2 separate regions of the Homo sapiens genome follow, and region 2 is linked to region 1. A link means that fine-mapping ties the variant in region 1 to the expression of a gene that starts in the linked region. Tissue or cell type: subcutaneous fat. Region 1 holds a variant in brackets; the other region holds the start of a gene. All regions are shown on one strand. Distances are from middle to middle.

Region 1 (2,906 bases):
GGAAGGAAAGATACCTTAGACATACTCCTACCTAGCTTTCTTCATACTAAAAAATGGAAACAGTTGTTGATAATGTCTTTCCTTATAGATGTAATGTTCATATCTTAGTGCCATGCCTGCTGTATAGCAAGATTGTATGTGTACCTTCTACTCTGCTGTGATTCTTGAATAGAGCTAGTCTCTGCATTTTGAGAAACTGACACTCATTCAAATCACAGTTTCTTTAATAATGCATGCCATGCTACTACTACTACAAGAGAGCGCTTTACAGCCACCAAATCCTACGGATATATTTGAATTAGTTAAATTCCAAATTTCTAGACATATGCTTTAATTCCTTCTTCCTTTCCATCTACTCCATGGTTGATAGCTAGATGAGGGGAGGGACAGATGGATAAATGGATAGATGGATGGATGGATGAATAGCAGGTCTGTGCATTACTGATGGATTGATGGGCTGTTGGATAGCGGAATGCAGGAAGGGAAAGAGGGAGGAAGAAAGGAGGGGCCAGGTGCAGTGGCTCATGTAATCCCAGCACTTTGGGAGGCCAAGGTGGGCAGATCACCTAAGGTCAAGAGTTCTAGACCAGCCTGGGCAACATGGCACACATGGCAAAACCCCATCTCTACTAAAAATACAAAAATTAGCCGGGTGTGCTGGTGGGCGCCCATAATCCCAGCTAGTCATGAGGCTGAGGCAGGGAAATTGCTTGAACCTGGGAGGTGGAGGTTGCAGTGAGTTGAGATAGTGCCACTGCACTCCAGCCTGGGTGACAGAGCGAGACTCCATCTCAAAAAAAAAAAAAAAAAAAAAAAAAAAGGAGAGAGGAACTTAAAAGGTTTAACACAGTGGTATGTGTGCGAGACTCCCTCTCAAAAAAAGGAGGGAGAAACTAAAGGGTTTAACACAGTGGTATGTGTGCTTTCCTGCTGTGTTACTCTGGGCAGTTGATTCAAGCTCTATTTGCTTTGGTTTTATCACCTGTAAATAGGTCATAATAATATTATTAATTGTTATGGTTTAGCTGTGCCCCCAGCCAAATCTCATCTTGAATTGTATCTCCCAGAATTCCCACGTGTTGTAGGAGGGACCCAGTGGGAGGTAATTGGATTATGGGGGCCAGTTTTTCCCCTGCTATTCTTGTGATAATGAATAAGTCTCACAAGATCTGATGGGTTTATCAGGGGTTTCTGCTTTTGCTTCTTCCTCATTTTCTCTTGGTGCTGCCATGTAAGAAGTACCTTTCACCTCCTGCCATGATTCTGAGGCCTCCCCAGTCATGTGGAACAGTAAGTCCAATTAAACCTCTTTTTCTTCCCAGTCTCAGATATGTCTTTACCAGCAGCATGAAAATGAACTAATACAGTAAATTGGTACCAGTAGAGTGGGGCGTTGCTGAAAAGATACCCAAAAATGTGGAAGCGACTTTGGAACTGAGTAACAGACAGAGATTGGAAGAGTTTGAAGGGCTCAGAAGATAGGAAAATGTAGGAAAGTTTGGAGCTTCCTAGAGACTTGTTGAATGGCTTTGTGCCAAATGCTGATAGTGATATGGACAACAAAAATGAAGGCTGAAGTGGTCTCAGATGGAAATGAGGAACTTTTTGGGAACTGGAGCAAAGGCGACTCTTGTTTCATTTTAGCAAAGAGACTAT[C/T]GGCATTTTGCCCCTGCCCTAGAGATTTGTGAACTTTGAACTTGACAGAGATGATTTAGGGCATCCGGTGGAAGAAATTTGTAAGGAACAAAGCATTCAAGAGGTGACTTGGGTACTGTTAAAGACATTCAGTGTTAAAAGGGAAATAGAGCATAAAAGTTCAGAAAATTTGCAACCTGACTATGCAATGGAAAAGAAAAACTCACTTTCTGGGGAGAAATTCAAGCCAGCTGCAGAAACTTAACGTAAGTAGCAAGGAGCCTAATGTTAATCCCCAAGACCAAGGGGAAAATGTCTCCAGGCCATGTCAGAGGCCTTCATGGCAGCCCCTCCCATTGCAGGCCTGGAGGCCCAGGAGGAAAAAGTGGTTTCATGGGCCAGGCCCAGGATCCCCATGCTGCATGCAGCCTAGGGACTTTGTGCCTTGTTTCCCAGCCTCTCCAGCCATGGCTGAAGGGAGCCAATGTACAGCTTGGGCTGGGGCTTCAGAGGGTGGAAGCCCCAAACCTTGGCAACTTCCATGTGGTATCAAGCCTGTGGGTACTCAGAAGTCAAGAATTAAGGTTTGGAAACCTCTGCCTAGATTTCAGGAGATGTATGGAAACACCTGGATGCCCAGGCAAATTTTGCTGCAAGGGCAGGGCCCTCATGGAGAACCTCTGCTAGGGCAGTGCAGAAGGGAAATGTGGGGTTGGAGCCCCCATGCAGAGTCCCTAGTGGGGTACTGCCTAGTGGAGCTGTGAGAAGAGGGCCACCATCCTCCAGACCCATGAATTGTAGATCCACTGACAGCTTGAACCATGCATCTGGAAAAGCCACAGACACTCAACACCAGCCCATGAAAGCAGTCGGGAGGGAGGCTGTACCCTTTAAAGCCACTGGGGTGGAGCTGCCCAAGACCATGGGAACCCACCTCTTGCATCAGCGTAACCTGGATGTGAGACCTGGAGTCAAAGGAGATCATTTTGGAGCTTCAAAATTCAACTGCCCCACTGGATTTCGGACATACGTGGGCCCTGTAATCCCTTTGTTTTGGCCAATTTCTCCCATTTGGAATAGCTGTATTTACCCAATACCTGTACCCTCATTGTATCTAGAAGTTAGCTAGCTTGCTTTTGATTTTACAGGCTCATAGGCAGAAGTGACTTGTCTCAGATGAGACATTAGACTATGGCCTTTTGAGTTAATGCTGAAATGAGTTTATACTTTGGCAGACTGTTGGGAAGGCATGATTGGTTTTAAAATGTGAG
Region 2 (2,906 bases), 150 kb before region 1:
AAAAAGCATAACCCAGAATGTGACTGTAGTGGGAGAATAGCGATTGCTGTTTAAAATATTAAGTAAGGCTTCCCTGCTTTCAGAACCCATCATCCCACAGCAAGCTGAGTTGAAGCCCCTTACCAATATATTCACATCTTTCTTTACAATGGCACTTACATTCTTTTGATTTCTTTTTATCTGTGACAGATCCTAGCTTCTCTATTTATCTCTTGAATCTAATTTGCTCTATGACATCAAGCTTTAATTTTATCATTATTATTTTGCTTCATTTTAAGCACCCATGGTGTGCCAGGCATTGGATAAAATAGAAAAGATACAATCCCTGCTGTCGCTGGGCTCACACATTTAAAGAGATTTGACAGGCAAAATATCCTGTAATTGGCAATAGGTAGTCCTCATGCTTCCCCCCGCCCCTTCTCCCTTTTGAAGCAACTTCATCTCTCTGAACAAGCTTAAGAAGTTCCCTAGATCAAAGGTGTCAAAAACCAGAAGGGTTTGGAACAAGTGTCAGAGAGTAAGCAAACGACTTTCTGAGCTGTGACTCTGCTCCTCGACTGCCCACGTGCTCTCCGCTGTCTGCACTCCTGCCTCACCTGGGCTGACTCGGACTCTCCACCTCCTTTGCTGCTTCCGGCATGAGCTACCCAGGAGCCTAAGGCGCTCCTTCCCGCAACTCCGGTCCCCGCGCCCCGGGACTGCAAATCCTTTAAACAGAGGCCCCAGAGCTAGGGGTTTTCCCAGGCTCTGGTGGGCGTGGGCTGACAGTCGCTGGGAGCCCCGCAACAGGGGGGATGTCCAGGCAGGTATGCACCCAGCTCCCGGCGTTTCCCGGAGTCACCACAATGTTTCCCTTTCTCTCTCCCCCACGTATGCTGCTAGGGGTACTCCCCAGATAGGATTTTCTTTGTCTTTTCTCCTAGTAACACCGAAGCCCTCTCGTGCCCGGGGACTGCAGAGGAACGCCAGACCATCCGGACCTTGCGGGATGGCTCGGTGTGTGTGTTTTACTGTGTGTCGGAGTGTCGCGCATGTGTGCGTGTTGGGGCGCGTTATCAACAGGGGCCTAGGGCACCCCCACTCTTTCTTGCTCTCTTCCCCCATCACTTCATGGACCTCCGAGGCGCAAAGCGCTCGACCCTCTCCTGGGCTCAGTGGCTTGGGTACTCCGGGCTGAGCTCAGCTGGGGAGTCCCCTTACCCAGCCCGCACCGGCACCCCGAAGCTTCAAAGTTGCGGCAAACAGTTGCGGGGAGCAGAGGAACTGAGGTCCAGGCCAGCGCGCCCGCGGTCGCTCGCCTTGGGGAGCAGGCTGAGCCGAGGGTCGTGCGGGTGCGCGGCAGAGGCGGTAGGAGGCGGAGGAGAGGGGGGAGAAAGAGGGGGCGGTGGGGAACAGCTGCCGGGGTAGGCGAGGCGCAAGGTGGCTCCCCGCGGCCCCGCGCCCCGCGGCTCTCGGACGCACCAGGCAGCCAATGGCTGCGCAGAGGTGTACAGCAGATGGCGTCTGACTGCGCCGTTCCTTCCTCCTCCTCCTCCTCCTCCTTCTCTTCCTCCTCCTCCTTCTCTTCCTCCTCCTCCTCCTTCAGTGCTGAGGAGCCAGAGTCGCCGCCGGGTTGCCAGACGCTGGAATGGGTGGTCTTCCGACACACACCACCATCTTTCTTGCGCTCGGGAAGCTCGGGGCTCAGCGGCTCCCAGAGGTTACGGCGGCGGCTCTGGCGAGACGGGTGAGTGCAAGCACGCGGAGCCCCGAGTCGGGGATGCCGGGCCCCCTGGCCGGCCGACTGGGGCGCGGGGTGGCAGCGCCGGGGAAGGGGGCGCGCTGCCGGCGCAGACTTTGCTCTTTCCTCGCCGGACAGCCATCGTCGCCCCTTCTCCCAGCCAGACGCGGGAACTTGGAAGCGGATCTTCTCGGACGCCTCTGGCTTGGGGCTGCGGGAAGCGTGGGCTGCCCGGGGCGCAGTGTGCGGAGACCCTCTAGGCGGGCGGGGACGCCCCACGCGGCGACCTGAGCACCGACCTCATGCAACGGGACCGAACCTTGGGACCCGGGCAGCAGGAGCTCTGTTCCCTTCACCTCCAGCTTGGTTTGAGGGATACTGATGAAGGAAACCGGGGGTTTCCCGTCCTGCGCGGAGAGCCTCGGCGCCCAAAATCGAAAGGCCGGGAGTTGTTCTGCAGGCTTTGCAAACAGGTTGACTGAGGGTTTCCTTTCCCGTAGCGCTGACTGCGAAATCTGTGCATAGGCGTTCAGTGCCAGTGGAGGATAGCTGAGCAAGCCAAGAAGTTTTGCAGCTTCCTCTGATTTATCGGTGGAGTGTCAGGAGGCTGTAGCAACAGTTTACATTTCCCCTGTCCCTGCGAGTGGCTAGGGGCAAGCTGGGCTCGGACGTGATATCCTGCTGTTTGTGGAGAGGAAACTGGGAACGGGGCTTGAGAGTGAGGGGCAGGGAGGGGGGGACAGGCATATTTTCTACTGCATCGCCCATCTGCACCTGTCCCCTTTGCTGTCTTACATGTCCCATAGTATTAAAGTTATTTGAATAAGCAAATGAACCCCGCTCTTTGGTGACCGCGTATTTTGAAGTTGGAAAACTTTGCAGGGGACGAGGGAATGTTGAGGAGGGGGCGTTAAGCTCTCTCACTCTATCCCTTTTTAAAGACAAGAAAAAAACTTTCGTTGGCGAAGGTGGTACTTTTTTCTTTTGGAATGTCTGAGCTCAGAGCTTCCCATAAGAGGTATTGCGATTCAATACTGTACAGTCAAGGTGAAGTTCCACTAAGATTATGGGACCGTGGCATATTCTACGGAAGATACCAGGGTTCCTTGGCGCTCTGTTCATTGCCAGGGTGGTCTGCTGAAAGCCGGCAGTTTCCCACCCTCAGACTCCTTGGAGCTCTTTAAAT

Which allele goes with the higher level. Alleles are on the strand shown, and positions count from the first base shown. SD is a standard deviation of normalised expression in the study named.
For the expression in subcutaneous fat of the gene that starts at base 1,584 in region 2, allele C in region 1 goes with a lower level than allele T (small effect, 0.31 SD a copy in GTEx).

The links.
Region 2: THSD7B starts here. The variant in region 1 is fine-mapped to the expression of THSD7B in subcutaneous fat (GTEx, PIP 0.94).

The regions. Positions count from the first base shown.
Region 1 is chr2:136,911,529-136,914,434 of GRCh38, forward strand. The region is part of intron 2 of THSD7B (thrombospondin type 1 domain containing 7B); the gene reads left to right. Among named protein-coding and RNA genes, the nearest start is that of THSD7B, 150 kb to the left of the region's middle. The variant C/T (reference allele first, on the strand shown) is at 1,657.
Region 2 is chr2:136,763,962-136,766,867 of GRCh38, forward strand. It overlaps THSD7B (thrombospondin type 1 domain containing 7B), which reads left to right and starts at 1,584. Exons shown (of 28, transcript NM_001316349.2): 1 at 1,584-1,726. RefSeq lists an enhancer at 1,566-2,067.